Homo sapiens: one gene and its partners. The protein of the gene in region 1 purifies or fractionates together with the protein of each later gene. This does not show direct contact. Each region holds a gene or a part of one and is shown in the gene's direction. Other genes may lie near its edges.

Region 1 (3,848 bases):
ATAGAGGGCAGCGTCCTTTTTTCTTTATTTTATTGTAAAAAACACAAATTTGATCATCTTAATCATTTTTAAGTGTTAACAGTAGTGTTAAGTCTATTCACACTGTTGTGCAACAGATTTTCAGAAGTTTTCATTTTGCAAAACAGAAACTGTACCCATTTAACAACACTGTGCCACCTGATGTCCCCTGGCCTCCTTTACTTTTATGTAAGCCTGACTCTGTCTCCTGCTGGGATCTCACAAGGAGGGAGACCACTCTAGAAATAGCATCACACATTCTTTCAGTAAATACCCTGGCCAGAGAGTCTGCCAGCTGGATACAAGAGGCACCGTGGTCTTAGGACAGGAAAGGGGGTATTGTAAGTAAAACCTGAGTCAACAGAGAGAGATTACTGTGACTAGGAAAGTTAACTTTTCTCCTTCACCAGAGTGGGAAGCCGAAGCAGAGTGTTCTCACTGTACTCACTCCCTGGTCTTGTTAGGACTCACCAGAGCATTCTGTTTCCTATGTTGTGGTTGACCTCTGACTAGCCAATATTTTGCCTCTGTTCTGCCTTACTCTTCTCTGGATTCCCATGAGTTAAAACACATTCTAAACCATCTCCTTGGAAAAGCAGGCTTGGTTCCATCCCCTGAGAATGACAGAGCAGGAAAGTGGAGCTGGTCCAGTAGTAGGCCTGGGTCCTGTGCTTACTCCATCTAACAAGCCCAGTGACCTTCTAAAATAACTCAACACTGAGCTGCTTCTTCATCAATCAGATGGTGATCAGTGAAAACACTTCAAGAACTCTCGATGAAGATGAGGTAGTGATGTTATTCTTAGTCCTTCTCTTTTCTCTTTCCCACCCCATTCCTTGTGCTCTCATTTCAGGGTTTCTCGGTGGAGGGGCAGGAGAACCTGCAGGAGATCCTCAGCAAGCAGCTGCTTCTGTGTCAGTTCCTCATGGCGCTGTCCATTGTCCGGACAGGTGACACTTCCTCAGCTGTCTCCTCACCCCAGGACCCACTTAGAGGCCCTATTGGACAAGAACATGTACAAGGGGTTGGTGGGGAAGTTAAAAAAATCTGCTTATATTAGAGGACAGGTAGCTAAATGAGTAATTTAGGGAAGAAAGGGCTGTGGAATCCTCAAAGTCCCCTCCAAAGATGGTTCTCCCCCTTAAATTGTCTCTGAGTTTTAACAGACCCAGGTGCTGGTTTCCTTGACTTTGTCATATTTACTCCCAAGACTACTTCACCCATCTCTTGGAATAGACCCATTGGCTGCTTTTGGTGTTTTCTCTCTAATCTAGGAGGCCACTTCATCTGTAAAACCTTTGACCTGTTCACACCGTTTAGTGTGGGGCTTGTCTACCTGCTGTACTGCTGCTTTGAACGAGTTTGTCTCTTCAAGCCTATTACCAGCCGTCCTGCCAACTCAGAGAGGTGAAGCCTTTCTCTCTATATTAGCCAGATTAATTGGCTAAATGTCAGAACAGCAAATCATGGTGCATCTCTCTGGCATGACCTCTTAAGCTACGTTTAAAACCTTGACTTTAAAGAAGTGATGAGAGCCAACAGGATTCAGGATTCCTGGATCTTTTGGTCTTGTGATATGCCAGTTCAGCCTCTGCCTCCTTCTTCCAAGCCTTATGCTCCATGCTTATGTGAGGGATTCTCAGCTTGGCCAAGGAGAAAGTGACCAATAGTAGGGACACTTCAGGGGTCTTGGGCTGGGAAGGGGCAAGGAGCCGCTATCCAGAGGCACTACTGGGGTCCCAGTGTGACACTGCCCACACACAAGGTGAGAGAAAATGCAACCAATCAGAATTGCCCGGTGGCTTTGTTACAAACACATATTTCTGGGCCTTCTCCTGGGAGAGTTTGATTCATTAGGTCTATAATTTAACAGACTCCCCAGGTGATTGTGACACAGCCCGTCTGTCACAGGGAAGTTAGGAACTACTGCGATAGAGAGTAGAAATAGAGCTCAACAGAGAAGGATTTGAGGGGAACTTTAGCACCACAAAGGGTCTGTGTTGTTCTTTGTGCGTAGGCCTAAGGTTGAACAGGGAAGCCATTAAGCTTTGTGATTCCACAAGGGGTTGGGGGAAAAGGAATGTATGGGGAGGAAGCCCTTGCTCGGTGGAGTGACAGAGTATCTTCTGCCAGGTATGTGGTGTGCAAGGGCCTGAAGGTGGGCATAGATGATGTTCGGGATTACCTCTTCGCAGTGAATATTAAACTCAATCAGCTGCGGAACACGGATTCCGACGTCAACTTGGTGGTCCCCCTGGAGGTGATCAAGGGAGACCATGAATTTACTGACTACATGATACGGTCCAATGAGAGGTAAGCCAACGGGCTGGTTTTTGCTGGTAACACTGAGGTCCTAAGGAAGACCAGAGAGTGAAAGACTGAATGGTTGGCTCTTGGTATCACTTTGTCAACCCTGACAAATTGGCAACTGGGTTTGGTCTGCTGGTTTCAGGGCTCCCTGGGACTTTGGTTAGTTACCCTCAGGGACCCCCATCCTGCTGCCATGCCCTATCCCAAGGGTGGCAGGTAGGTGCCTGGCTAGTATAGGCCTGCCTGCAGGAGCCTGTGTATAACAGTGAAAGCTGACAGAGCAGCCTGTGTCCCTGGAGGCAGGAGTAATTTCCCTTTAATTGCTGCTGTTTGTAAAAGGCCATCATGCTTGTTGCCTGGTGAAGTCCCTGTTTGGAGGCAGGAGATGGATGGAAAGCATGTGTACAACATGCTTTGGAAGTGCCCAAACTTTTGCCATTTCTTCATGAGTTCCCCAGCTGGTGATCCAAATGCTGTTTTCTGTATCTTCTTTGTTTTCCCCACTCCCTGTTAGTGGTAATAATTTAAAGTTGTGACATTTGGCTTAGTTTTCTCAGTGGGCAGGCCTTTGAAAAAAGTGTTTGGAGATAGGCTGGAGGGTTGTATAGTAGTAGTGATTCAATAGAAAATGCTCTCTTAGGGGGCTAAACAGGTGTTGGAAAGGCCTTAGTTAAGGGTCCAACCTTAAGTCCCCCAGAGAAGTTTGAAGATAGAGGTGGCCCTGGAGAATCATAGAAGGGGAGGAAGTCTTTATCCTATTCTCTCCTATTTTTCCAGTATTGCCTGGTGTTTTAACTTTCCACAGTACTGCCATATAAGCGCCCTCATTTTGATAGCAATGGTAGGCACCAAGGTGGAGCAGACAGTAAACTTCAGCATGTTATAGATGAGGAAGCAAACAGGCCCAGCGACCCGCCTGGCTAGGGCTTTGTAACACTTCTGGGTTATGGAACATGTCTTTTGGCTGAACAAGTGTGCATAGATGCATGGCAGAACTGGAATTCTTTTCAGGGGTTCCAATAACACAGAGTGTTTAAGCAACTCTATAACCAGCCACTTTTCTTTTTCTAAAAAAGTTGAGGTATAATTCTGTAAGTGAAATGCAAATCTTAAGTGTATAATCAGTTTACAAATGCATATATCCTTGTAGCCTACATCCCTATTAAGATAAAAAATGTGGCCGGGCGTAGTGGCTCACACCTGTAATCCCAGCACTTTGGGAGGCTGAGGCAGATGGATCACGAGATCCGGAGATCGAGACCATCCTGGCTAACACGGTGAAACCCCATCTCTACTAAAAATTCAAAAAAAATTAGCCAGGCGTGGTGGCGGGCGCCTGTAGTCCCAGCCACTTGGGAGGCTGAGGCAGGAGAATGGCGTGAACCCAGGAGGCAGAGCTTGCAGTGAGCCGAGATCGCGCCACTGCACTCCATCCTGGGCGACAGAGGAAGACTCCATCTCAAAAAAAAAAAAAAAGATAAAAAACGTTTCCATCACCTAAGGAAATTTTCTTATGCCCC
Region 2 (3,848 bases), on another chromosome or scaffold:
CCTGGCCAACATGGCGAAACCCCTGTCTCTACTAAAAATACAAAATTTAGCCAGGTATGATAGTGCACACCTGTAATTCCAGCTACTTCAGAGGCTGAGGCAGGAGAATTGCTTGAACCTGGGGGGCAGAGGCTGCAGTGAGCTGAGATCAGGCCACTGTACTCCAGCCTGAGTGACAGAACGAGACTTTGTCACACACAAAAATAGATTAATTACTTTTAAAAGAATGGAGGTGTATAGAGGCAGTAGTTGGAACAAAGAATTCACTTAGGAGTTACGGACCTGGACATCCGATAAGTCAGTTTTTATGTCATGAATCATTTTGCTTTACGTTCAGTCATTATGTATGTATTCTAGCCAATTGTTGAGCCAATTAATGAAAATAAATTTCTTGGACAAATATCAGAGAAACATTGTTTATGATTTATTTATGTTTACTAGAAAACCATCTGAAATAAAGCTGTCAGGTTGAGAATGAGCTAGGTAGAATTGATTCAGAAAAATGGATAGAAATGTTCAGGGAAGCTAGAACTCTTCTCTATTTTGTTATTTATGGGTGCAGTTAATTTAGTTGCCTGTGAATTGTCCACTATGGTTTATGTGGCATATTTTTAGTACCAAATTCCTTACCATTATATAAGGAAGGGATTTTTACAGGGATTACTAGCCAGTTTTAATAACTACTGAGAACATAATTAGATAAAACCAGAAAATGATATATTTTCTTTAAAAATGTATGCATTAGGTTATCTGCTATTGGATTTTGCATACTAGTATTTCTTTTCCGAGGTATAGGATATATTTTGTAAATGCAAAATGTAACTTCCCCCCTTCATATATTTCTCTAAATGGAAATAATTTAAAATAGGCTTTGAAACAAGTGGCCTTTGCTGTGCATTTACTGATAGTATCATATAATGCACGAATTTTGTATGTATTTATGTATTTTTATGGTAGAGATGGGATCTTCCTAAGTTGCCCAGGCTGGTCTTAGACTCCTGGGCTCAAGGGATCCTCTTGCCTTGGCCTCCCAAAGTGGTGGGATTAACAGGCATGAACCACCATGCCTAGCCTCGAATGATATTACTGTAATTTTAGAACCATCAAAAAAATATCAGGCCTGTCAGGGAGAATGATGAATATTTTGACAGCCAACAAGTTCATCCCAATAGTGGTATACAGTATGTATCGTATATCTGTGATATTAAAATTGTAAGAGGGGTAATTAGGGAAAAAATGTCTAAAAGTAACTTCTTGAAGGGAGGGAGGAGACAGGGATAATGAAAAGGTTGAGAAGCCATACTTTAAGGGAACTAATAGGATTTTGGTCATTTTGCCATCCATTTTCTCTGGCTTGGCAACAGATATTTGTATATCATGTGGAGCATAATCTTGTTGTGTAAAATGTTGAGAGAATACCTTGTCTAAAGAATGATTGTAGTGATTTAGAATGGTAGGGAATGAAAAAAATTAGTGAGTTTTTTTTTTTTTTAAACAAACCCTAAGAGCTGTTGTTTATTCCAAGCTTTATGTAACATAGCTGGCTAGCTACTATGAACAGCAGATAAGATTGGGCAACATTTGGTATCAAAGATAATTAGAGGAATGATGTTGATATTTTCTTGTTTTTTGAATGCCATTAAAATTAAAAGTAATAATTGAAAAGACCCTTCATGTAATAAAAAATGATACCGTGAAATATTTCTTTGACAAACTGGAAACCTTTTTTTTAGTCTGTTCAGTAGGCTCACAGAGCTTTATTTATATATGACCTGTGATATACATTTTGCATAATTTCTCATGCAAACATCATGCATATTTTCTCACTTTATGAAGTAAGAACAAAGTTCAGTATGTTCTGTATTTTTTTTTACGCTGGAGGATTGATGTGATATGAAGCTGATTAAAAGGAAGGTTACTGATAACTACAAAAGAGTGTGCTTTGAGTTTCATTTTTAGTAATGGCAGCAAATGTATTCAGATTCATTATGTTTTTTCACAAAGTTTAAATGTATACCATTGGGGCTAAGTGTACAGGCTGTGGCCTTGGAACAGAGAGAAGCTAACTAGTCCACATGGAGATCAAACCCCAGGACCATGGTCTTAATTAGGATCGTACTACAACCACTTGGAAGCAGTACAACTACCAGACAAAATGGCTGATCCTAAATATTGGTAGAATCATATCAATGTGGAAAATTGGTTTGTGTCAACATAGGAATTCATGGATGGACAAAAATAGTAAGTGATTGTGATATACCAGGTTAGTGTAGCTGCAATTATGCTTGTAAATTTTTTGTCTACTTATGTAAACATTTTCACAGGTTTGTAGCTAATAGAAGAAAACAAAGAATCTGTTCACCTATTTATGTAAGTGAAAGTGTAAATTTAAAAATACATTTAGTCCTGCTGTTAATAACCCTTCCATTCTTTTTTACTTTCCCTCAGACCATATATTGTGATTATAGTTTCTGCTGAGGAGGATGGAAACTCAACTCCCTTTGAATAATATTAGTAATTCTACTTGATGTTCAGAACCGGATTGCAAGAGAGTTTAAAGTGCCCAACACCCCTTGTGGGAAACTTTTTAGTATCTTAAGTGCATGGAACTACTGCTGCAGCCACACCGCCTGAAGCTTCAGCCACACTGAAACTTCATAACAAAACTTACCCTCTTTTTTCCTAATTTCTGTGGTCATTGCAATTTGAGCATGTTACTTTGTTTAACAAAAACTCATTTCTTAAAGATTATTTTAGTATTGCTGTACAAACAGAATAAAATTATGGCATTATTCAGTGACTTGTGGTCTTAGTTTCTGCCCTTTGTTAAATTTAGCTTTGTTCTCTGATTTAACCTTGAGATCCCAGACCCCTTATTAAATAAGTCTTATAGACATTCTACCTCGTAACAAGTAAAATTGGTATGTAAAGATTCTGTAACTAGTAAATTGGATAAGTCATTAATTACATAAACGATTACCTGATGATTACTTGAGGTCCCTTTATTTAGGAATATAAATGATATTTCCCCTACTAGGCTTTTTTCTTTTTCTTTTAAAAAGATCTTATTCTCGGCCGGGTGTGGTGGCTCACACCTGTAATCCCAGCACTTTGGGAGGCCGAGGCGGGCGGATCACGAGGTCAGGAGATCAAGACCATCCTGGCTAACCCATCCTGCCTAACACGGTGAAACCCCATCTCTACAAAAAATACAAGAAATTAGCTGGGCAAGGTAGCGGGCGCCTGTAGTCCCAGCTACTCGGGGGGGGGGGGGGGGGCTGAGGCAGGAGAATGGCGTGAACCCAGGAGGCGGAGCTTGCAGTGAGCCGAGATTGCGCCACTGCACTCCAGCCTGGGCGACAGAGCAAGACTCCGTCTCAAAAAAATAAATAAATAAAAATTAAAATTAAAAAAATACAAAATAAATAAAAGATCTTATTCTGGCTCTCCTTTAAATAGCAAAACAGTAGCCTGGGCCCATAATATCTTGTTGCTCTGTTTACCATCATATAACAAATGCTTTTCTCTGGGTCATTCTATCCATTTAGGGACTATTTTGGCTAATAGTCCCTAAAACCATTAGCTCCTCCATATGTGCCATTTGTATAATTCTTTAGTAAATTGTATTAATGGGAGAATCTGTAAGTTACGTCTGAACTTTCAGGTTGTCTTATAATTGTCTTTTTCCTTATGTCAGATGTTCTATGTCATAAGAATAAAATGGTTCACACCAATACAAGTACTTAGTTGTGGAAAGGGAGAGTAGAAGATAAAAATGGAGATTTTCCTGTGCTACAGGCTTAGTCAAGCTTATGGTCTATTTAATGGTTATCAAAGGCAATTAAATA
Region 3 (3,848 bases), 6.9 Mb from region 1:
TGCTTGGATTGCTCTTGGAAACATGTTTACCTGTAGCTTAACTCCCTTTATAGTTCTTTGAAGAGCTGGCAGTAGAAGATAAACAGGCTGGGGAAGAAGAGAAAGTGCTCAAGGAGAAGGAGCAGCAGCAGCAGCAACAGCAACAGCAGGTACAAGTGCCACAGGGCCCACCAATCCTGGGAGGCATCTGGGTTCCACCAACCCCTTTCCAGCCCATGTTGCTCCATTCAGCTGATGGGGAACCCTCTGTGAGGCAGAAATACAGCAGGGGCCTGGGCTTCATTTTCTCACTGTTCTTTTGCTCTCAGCAGCAAAAAAAAAAGCGAGATACCCGAAAAGGCAGGCGGAAGAAGGATGTGGATGATGATGGAGAAGAGAAAGAGCTCATGGAGCGTCTTAAGAAGCTCTCAGTGCCAACCAGTGATGAGGAGGATGAAGGTAAATGACCTGAGGGGGAATGGGTACCTGGAATCCATGAGTCATGGAGAGTGATACCTCATACCCTGATCTTCAAGTTGGATTCAATTGGGGGGCCAGACATTGTAATTCTTTCCTATCTCATGTTCTCCCCCTGTCATTTCAGTACCCGCCCCAAAACCCCGCGGAGGGAAGAAAACCAAGGTAAGCCATCTGTGTGGTAAACGGAGACTCCAAGGATGCAACCTTGACCATCCTACTGACTTCTGTGGCCCTTTCATTCTCTAGGGTGGTAATGTTTTTGCAGCCCTGATTCAGGATCAGAGTGAGGAAGAGGAGGAGGAAGAAAAACATCCTCCTAAGCCTGCCAAGCCGGAGAAGAATCGGATCAATAAGGTGACAGTGGTGGCTCGATCAGTCACTCTCACTCCATTTAGCACCTTCTGGCCATGGTGGAGTAATTTCCCGCTTTTAAACTAGCTCTTCTCGGTCTGTCTTACTTATACTGTTAAAATCATCTTTTTAGAATACATGCCCAGGCTGGGCACAGTGGGTCACGCCTGTAATCCCAGCACTTTGGGAGGCCGAGGTGGGCGAATCACGAGGTCAAGAGATCGAGACCAGCCTGACCAACATGGCGAAACCTCATCTCTACTAAAAATACAAAAATTAGCCAGGCGTGGTGGCGTGCGCCTGTAATCCCAGCTACTTGGAAGGCTGAGGCAGGAGAATCACTTGAACTTGGGAGGTGGAATTTGCAGTGAGCTGAGATTGAGGCACTGCACTCCAGCCTGGGCAACAGAGCAAGACTCAGTCTCAAAAAAAAAACAACAAAAAAAACCATGCCATTTTTATCACTCAGAAATCTACAGTGATTCTGTTGCTTTAAGCACAGAACCTGAAACAAAGCCCCAGGTCCTTGCTCTTCTACTTGTGACTCTTCTGCGTGTGCATCTTAGTCCATGTCCATTTGAGCTCTTGAGAAAGCCTCCAGTGCTAGTGCCACTCACTCTGGTGGCGCACTTGCCTGACTTATAATCCTTAGCCTTGCTGACGTTCCCTAGTTATCTCTTCGCTATCTAGTCTGAAGCTGGAGGGTAGGGTTTTTCTGGGTCTCATTTTTCGTCAGCAGCACTCAATACAGATGGTCTCCAACTTCTGCTTCGGTGTACGATTTTTCTACTTTATGATGGTGTGAAAGTCATACTCATTTAGGGTACTCCTCAACTCATGATGGGATTATATCCAGATAAACCCATCATAAGTTGGAACTATTTTTTTTTTTTTTTTTTTTTGAGACGGAGTCTCACTCTGTTGCCAGGCTGGAGTGCAGTGGCGTAATCCTGGCTCACTGCAACCTCCGCCTCCCGGGTTCAAGTGATTCTCCTGCCTCAGCTTCCTGAGTAGCTGAGATTACAGGCACGTGCCACCACGCCCAGCTAATTTTTGTGTTTTTAGTAGAGACAGGGTTTCACCATGTTGACCAGGATGGTCTCGATCTCTTGACCTTGTGATCCACCTGCCTTGGCCTCCCAAAGTGCTGGGATTACAGGTGTGAGCCACCACGCCCGGCCAAGAACTATCATTTTTTATTTAAGTTTCTGGTGGGTTTATCGGGATGCAACCTGTCGTAAATGGAGGAGCATGTGTATGGTTAACACAGTAGACTCTCTAGAAATGCTTATTACACAGCAAAGTAGCACAATAATTTGTATGTATGTGTGTAATGTGTATGTGTGTCTCCTCCAGGCCGTATCTGAGGAACAGCAGCCTGCACTCAAGGGCAAAAAGGGAAAGGAAGAGAAGTCAAAAGGGAAGGCTAAGGTGAGAGAGTAACTAGCAGGAGGAGGTATTGGGGCCCAGGAATTAAAACATTTCATCAGGGCTGGGCGCGGTGGCTCACGCCTGTAATCCCAGCACTTTGGGAGGCCGAGGTGGGCGGATCACGAGGTCAGGAGATCGAGACCATCCTGGTAACACGGTAAAACCCCGTCTCTACTAAAAATACAAAAAAAATTAGCCGGGCGTGGTGGCGGGCGCCTGTAGTCCCAGCTACTCGGGAGGCTGAGGCAGGAGAATGGCGTGAACCCGGGAGGTGGAGCTTGCAGTGAGCCGAGATTGCGCCACTGCACTCCAGCCTGGGTGACAGAGCGAGACTCCGTCTCAAAAAAAAAAAAAGAAAAAAAAAAAAAACATTTCATCAGACCTGTCTTTTCCCTATTAGCCTCAAAATAAATTCGCTGCTCTGGACAATGAAGAGGAGGATAAAGAAGAAGAAATTATAAAGGAAAAGGAGCCTCCCAAACAAGGGAAGGAGAAGGCCAAGAAGGCAGAGCAGGTGTGTATTTGGTGTTGGGGCAAGGTGGAATGAGGGACTAGGGCTTCCAGGGTCCTTATGGGAGAGTTAGAATCTGGGGATATAGTTATTATCCCAGCAAACCTTTATTCTTTTCTTTTTTTGGGGGAGTAGTTGGGGTGGTGGTTCGTTTGTTTTTGTTTTTGTTTTTGTTTACACAGGATCTTACTCTGTCACTCAGGCTGGAGTGCAGTGGTGTGAACACGGCTCACTGAAGCCTCAACCTCCTGGGCTCAACAGATTCTCCTGCCTCAGCCTACTGAGTAGCTGGGACTACAAGTGTGCACCACTACCCCTGGCTAATTTTTTTATTTTTAGTATAGAGATGAGGTCTCACTATGTTGCTCAGGCTGGTCTTGAATTTCTGGGCTCAAGCAGTCCTCCTGCCTCAGCCTCCCAAAATGCTGGGTTTACAGGTGTGAGCCAGCATGCCAGCCAGCAAACTTTTTCTATAAAGGGCCATATAGTAAATGTTTTTGGCTTTGCAGGCCACATACAATCTCTATCACATATTCTTTTTTTTTTTTAACAACTCTTTGAAAATACAAAAATTATTTTTATAAAGTTCAGGAGCTATATAAAAATAAATGTCAGGTCAGCCTTGGCCCATGGGCTGTAGTTTGCAACACCTAATCCAGTGAAGAAAGGGCCTGGAATTTATCTCAGATGATCTGGGTCCTGGCTCTGCCTTCACTGGCTGTGTGACCTTGAATACATCTTCCCATCCCCTTGGGTCTCACTTGTCTCCTTTGTGTGATAGAAGGAGGAGTCCGGAGATCTCTAGGGTCCCTATGCGTCTGGCACTTCCTAATTCTGTGATTCTGCTGGATTCCTCTGACTGTGCACTAGAGCTTCCTGATCTTTTTTTTTTTTTTTTTTTTTTTGAGATGGAGTCTCACTCCGTTGCCCAGGCTGGAGTGCGGTGGCGCAATCTCAGCTCACTGCAACCTCTGCCTCCCGGGTTCAAGCAATTCTTCTGCCTCAGTCTCCCGAGTAGCTGGGACTACAGGCACGTGCCACCATGACCGGCTGATTTTTTGTGTTTTTAGTAGAGACAGGATTTCACCATGTTAGC
Region 4 (2,859 bases), on another chromosome or scaffold:
GTATAGAATGGATTTTTTTTTTTTTTTTTTTGGAGACGGAGTTTCACTCTTGTTGCTCAGGCTGGAGTGCAATGGCATGATCTCACCTCAACCTCCGCCTCCCTCCCGGATTCAAGCAGTTCTCCTGCCTCAGCCTCCCAAATAGCTGGGATTACAGGCGTGCACCATGATACCTGGCTAATTTTGTATTTTTAGTAGAGAAGTGGTTTCTCCATGTTGGTCAGGCTGGTCTTGAACACCTCGGGTGATCTGCTGGACTCAGCCTCCCAATGTGCTGGGATTACAGGCATGCACCATGATTCCTGGCTAATTTTGTATTTTTAGTAGAGAAGGGGTTTCTCCATGTTGGTCAGGCTGGTCTTGAACACCTCGGGTGATCCGCCGGACTCAGCCTCCCAATGTGCTGGGATTATTACAGGTGTGAACCACCGTGCCCGGCCTAGAATGGATTTTTTAAAGTGCTATTCTTAGCAGAATTTAAATTTTCCTCATTACCCGCTTGGAGTTAACAGCTAGTGGAAATTGGGTGGTAGGGTGGGAAATTATGAGTTTATCAAGTTGGAAAGGAACGCCTTAGTGCAAAGTTTAATTATTGATGAAGATTACTATTACTATGATTAAAAACCCTCCTAGTGAAAGCTGTGTTCTTCTGTGACCTGGATTTAAATGTATCTTGGCACTCGAGCTTAATGATGACTGTTTTTTTTGATTGCTTGAAGCAATGTGAAAAACACATTTCACCGGCTCTGAAAGCTCTTGAGTTGCCATTTGAAAGAAATCTTAGAATACTTTGCAGTTACTTAAAGTCAGAATTTTAAAGGAAGGGGAAATGCTGGTATATAACATTGGTTTCTTTAATAGGGAATGGGTACTGTTCAAAAAGGAATGCCCCACAAGTGTTACCATGGCAAAACTGGAAGAGTCTACAATGTTACCCAGCATGCTGTTGGCATTGTTGTAAACAAACAAGTTAAGTAAGTAGTGTTGTAGTTCTTTGTGGCTAACCAGTATTCCCTCATATACCCCCTTTTCACTTTGCCAGTTGGACTTATGTCTTTATTGGTCATTCAAGTGGGGCAAAGGAAATATCCTTTTAAAACTCAGGCAAACTGGGTGTTTGTCTGTATCCTGTCAGAGGAAACAAATTGAAATAGATTTACTGGAAAGTCTTACACAGTTAGTTACTAAGCGGTTTGTTTGTTTTGTTTCGAGACGGAGTCTTGCTCTGTCGCCCTGGCTGGAGTGCAGTGGTGGGATCTCTGCTCTCTGCAAGCTCCACCTCCTGGGTTCACGCCATTCTCCTGCCTCAGCCTCTGGGGTAGCTAGGACTACAGGCGCCCACCACCATGCCCAGCTAAATTTTTTGTATTCTTAGTAGAGACAGGGTTTCACTGTGTCAGCCAGGATGGTCTCAATCTCCTGACCTCGTGATCTGCCTGCCTCGGCCTCCCAAAGTGCTGGGATTACAGGCATGAGCCACCGCGCCTGGCCCAGCAGTTTTTATAGAATAAAAAGAGAAGTTTAGTAAACTTTTAAATTTTATTAGCAGTCTGGTTTTAGATTACTAGAGTTTAAGAGACCATCATCTCATCAAAGAGAGTTAAAAGTAGGGATGTTCTCTGCAAGGCCTCTTCTGATATGATTAATTGATTGTAAATTAAGTAATCAAGGCATACTTTGTTGATTTGTCATATCTGGGTAAAAGGTTTATGGTTTATTTAATAAATGAAACTGCAAAATCAGTTTTCTACATTTCTGTTATATTTTTGTTAAAGCACTTAAAAGAATTTCTGCTCTGTCCAGGGGCAAGATTCTTGCCAAGAGAATTAATGTGCGTATTGAGCACATTAAGCACTCTAAGAGCCGAGATAGCTTCCTGAAACGTGTGAAGGAAAATGATCAGAAAAAGAAAGAAGCCAAAGAGAAAGGTACCTGGGTTCAACTAAAGCGCCAGGTAAGAATTTGGTGTATATTTCATTGGTTCTGAGAGCACTTTAAGGTTGAGATTTAACACATCACATAATTATTTTATTCCCTTTTTTTTTCCTTTAATAGCCTGCTCCACCCAGAGAAGCACACTTTGTGAGAACCAATGGGAAGGAGCCTGAGCTGCTGGAACCTATTCCCTATGAATTCATGGCATAATAGGTGTTAAAAAAAAAAATAAAGGACCTCTGGGCTACAAAAATGTTTCTCTTCATTGAGTAGAAGTGTGGTGTCCTCTCCCCCAAAGAAATATTTAAAGCAAATTTTGGTTGTGTCCTAATTCATTATGTAATGTCCTTGCTATTCAAATTTAATGTATTTCTTGCTGAAGGACATGAGGTAGCTTATTGTGCAACAAATTACTCAGAAAATGGCGAGGTATTATATATGAAATACTTGTACTGGTTTGAAGATAGTCCTTCTAAATCATCAAGGAAGAAATAAAATATTTTTTTTTTGAGACAGTCTTGCTCTGTCAACCTGGCTGGAGTGCAATGGTGTGATCTCGGCTCACTGCAACATCTGCCTCCTGGGTTCAAGCAATTCTGCCTCAGCCTGCTGAGTAGCTGGGATTATAGGCGCGTGCCACCACGCCTGGCTAATTTTTGTATCTTTAGTAGAGACAGGGTTTCACCATGTTTATAAGTCTGGTCTCAAACTCCTGACCTCGTGATCCACCTGCCTTGGCCTCCCAAAGTGCTGGGATTACAGGTGTGAGCTACTGTGCCAGGACAAATAAAACATACAAAAATAAGTGGGATGTCATCTATTGCGTAACAGTTAAGCTCAGGATCCAGAGTTTGCTTTTGAATCCTTAAAAAAAAAAAAAAGATTGTTTAAAGCATCCATTCTTTGTGTGTTATATACTAGCTT

What was found. Proteins that work in one complex are often made in the same cells at the same time.
Region 2: the proteins of CMTR1 (region 1) and CPSF6 purify together in Homo sapiens (affinity purification with mass spectrometry, with the first as the bait; one large-scale study listed by BioGRID). This does not show direct contact.
Region 3: the proteins of CMTR1 (region 1) and ABCF1 purify together in Homo sapiens (affinity purification with mass spectrometry, with the first as the bait; one large-scale study listed by BioGRID). This does not show direct contact.
Region 4: the proteins of CMTR1 (region 1) and RPL21 purify together in Homo sapiens (affinity purification with mass spectrometry, with the first as the bait; one large-scale study listed by BioGRID). This does not show direct contact.

The regions. Positions count from the first base shown.
Region 1 is NC_000006.12:37,460,678-37,464,525, forward strand, and holds part of CMTR1 (cap-specific mRNA (nucleoside-2'-O-)-methyltransferase 1), read left to right. Parts: intron 1-871; coding exon 872-968; intron 969-1,292; coding exon 1,293-1,425; intron 1,426-2,151; coding exon 2,152-2,331; intron 2,332-3,848. UniProt on the Homo sapiens protein: S-adenosyl-L-methionine-dependent methyltransferase that mediates mRNA cap1 2'-O-ribose methylation to the 5'-cap structure of mRNAs.
Region 2 is NC_000012.12:69,245,892-69,249,739, forward strand, and holds part of CPSF6 (cleavage and polyadenylation specificity factor subunit 6), read left to right. Parts: intron 1-3,848. UniProt on the Homo sapiens protein: Component of the cleavage factor Im (CFIm) complex that functions as an activator of the pre-mRNA 3'-end cleavage and polyadenylation processing required for the maturation of pre-mRNA into functional mRNAs.
Region 3 is NC_000006.12:30,577,765-30,581,612, forward strand, and holds part of ABCF1 (ATP-binding cassette sub-family F member 1), read left to right. Parts: intron 1-53; coding exon 54-149; intron 150-311; coding exon 312-438; intron 439-583; coding exon 584-621; intron 622-705; coding exon 706-813; intron 814-2,166; coding exon 2,167-2,241; intron 2,242-2,641; coding exon 2,642-2,755; intron 2,756-3,848. UniProt on the Homo sapiens protein: Isoform 2 is required for efficient Cap- and IRES-mediated mRNA translation initiation. Isoform 2 is not involved in the ribosome biogenesis.
Region 4 is NC_000013.11:27,254,381-27,257,239, forward strand, and holds the end of RPL21 (large ribosomal subunit protein eL21), read left to right. Parts: intron 1-683; exon of another isoform or gene 684-755; intron 756-861; coding exon 862-974; intron 975-1,020; exon of another isoform or gene 1,021-1,146; intron 1,147-1,803; coding exon 1,804-1,954; intron 1,955-2,055; coding exon 2,056-2,145; 3' UTR 2,146-2,188; downstream 2,189-2,859.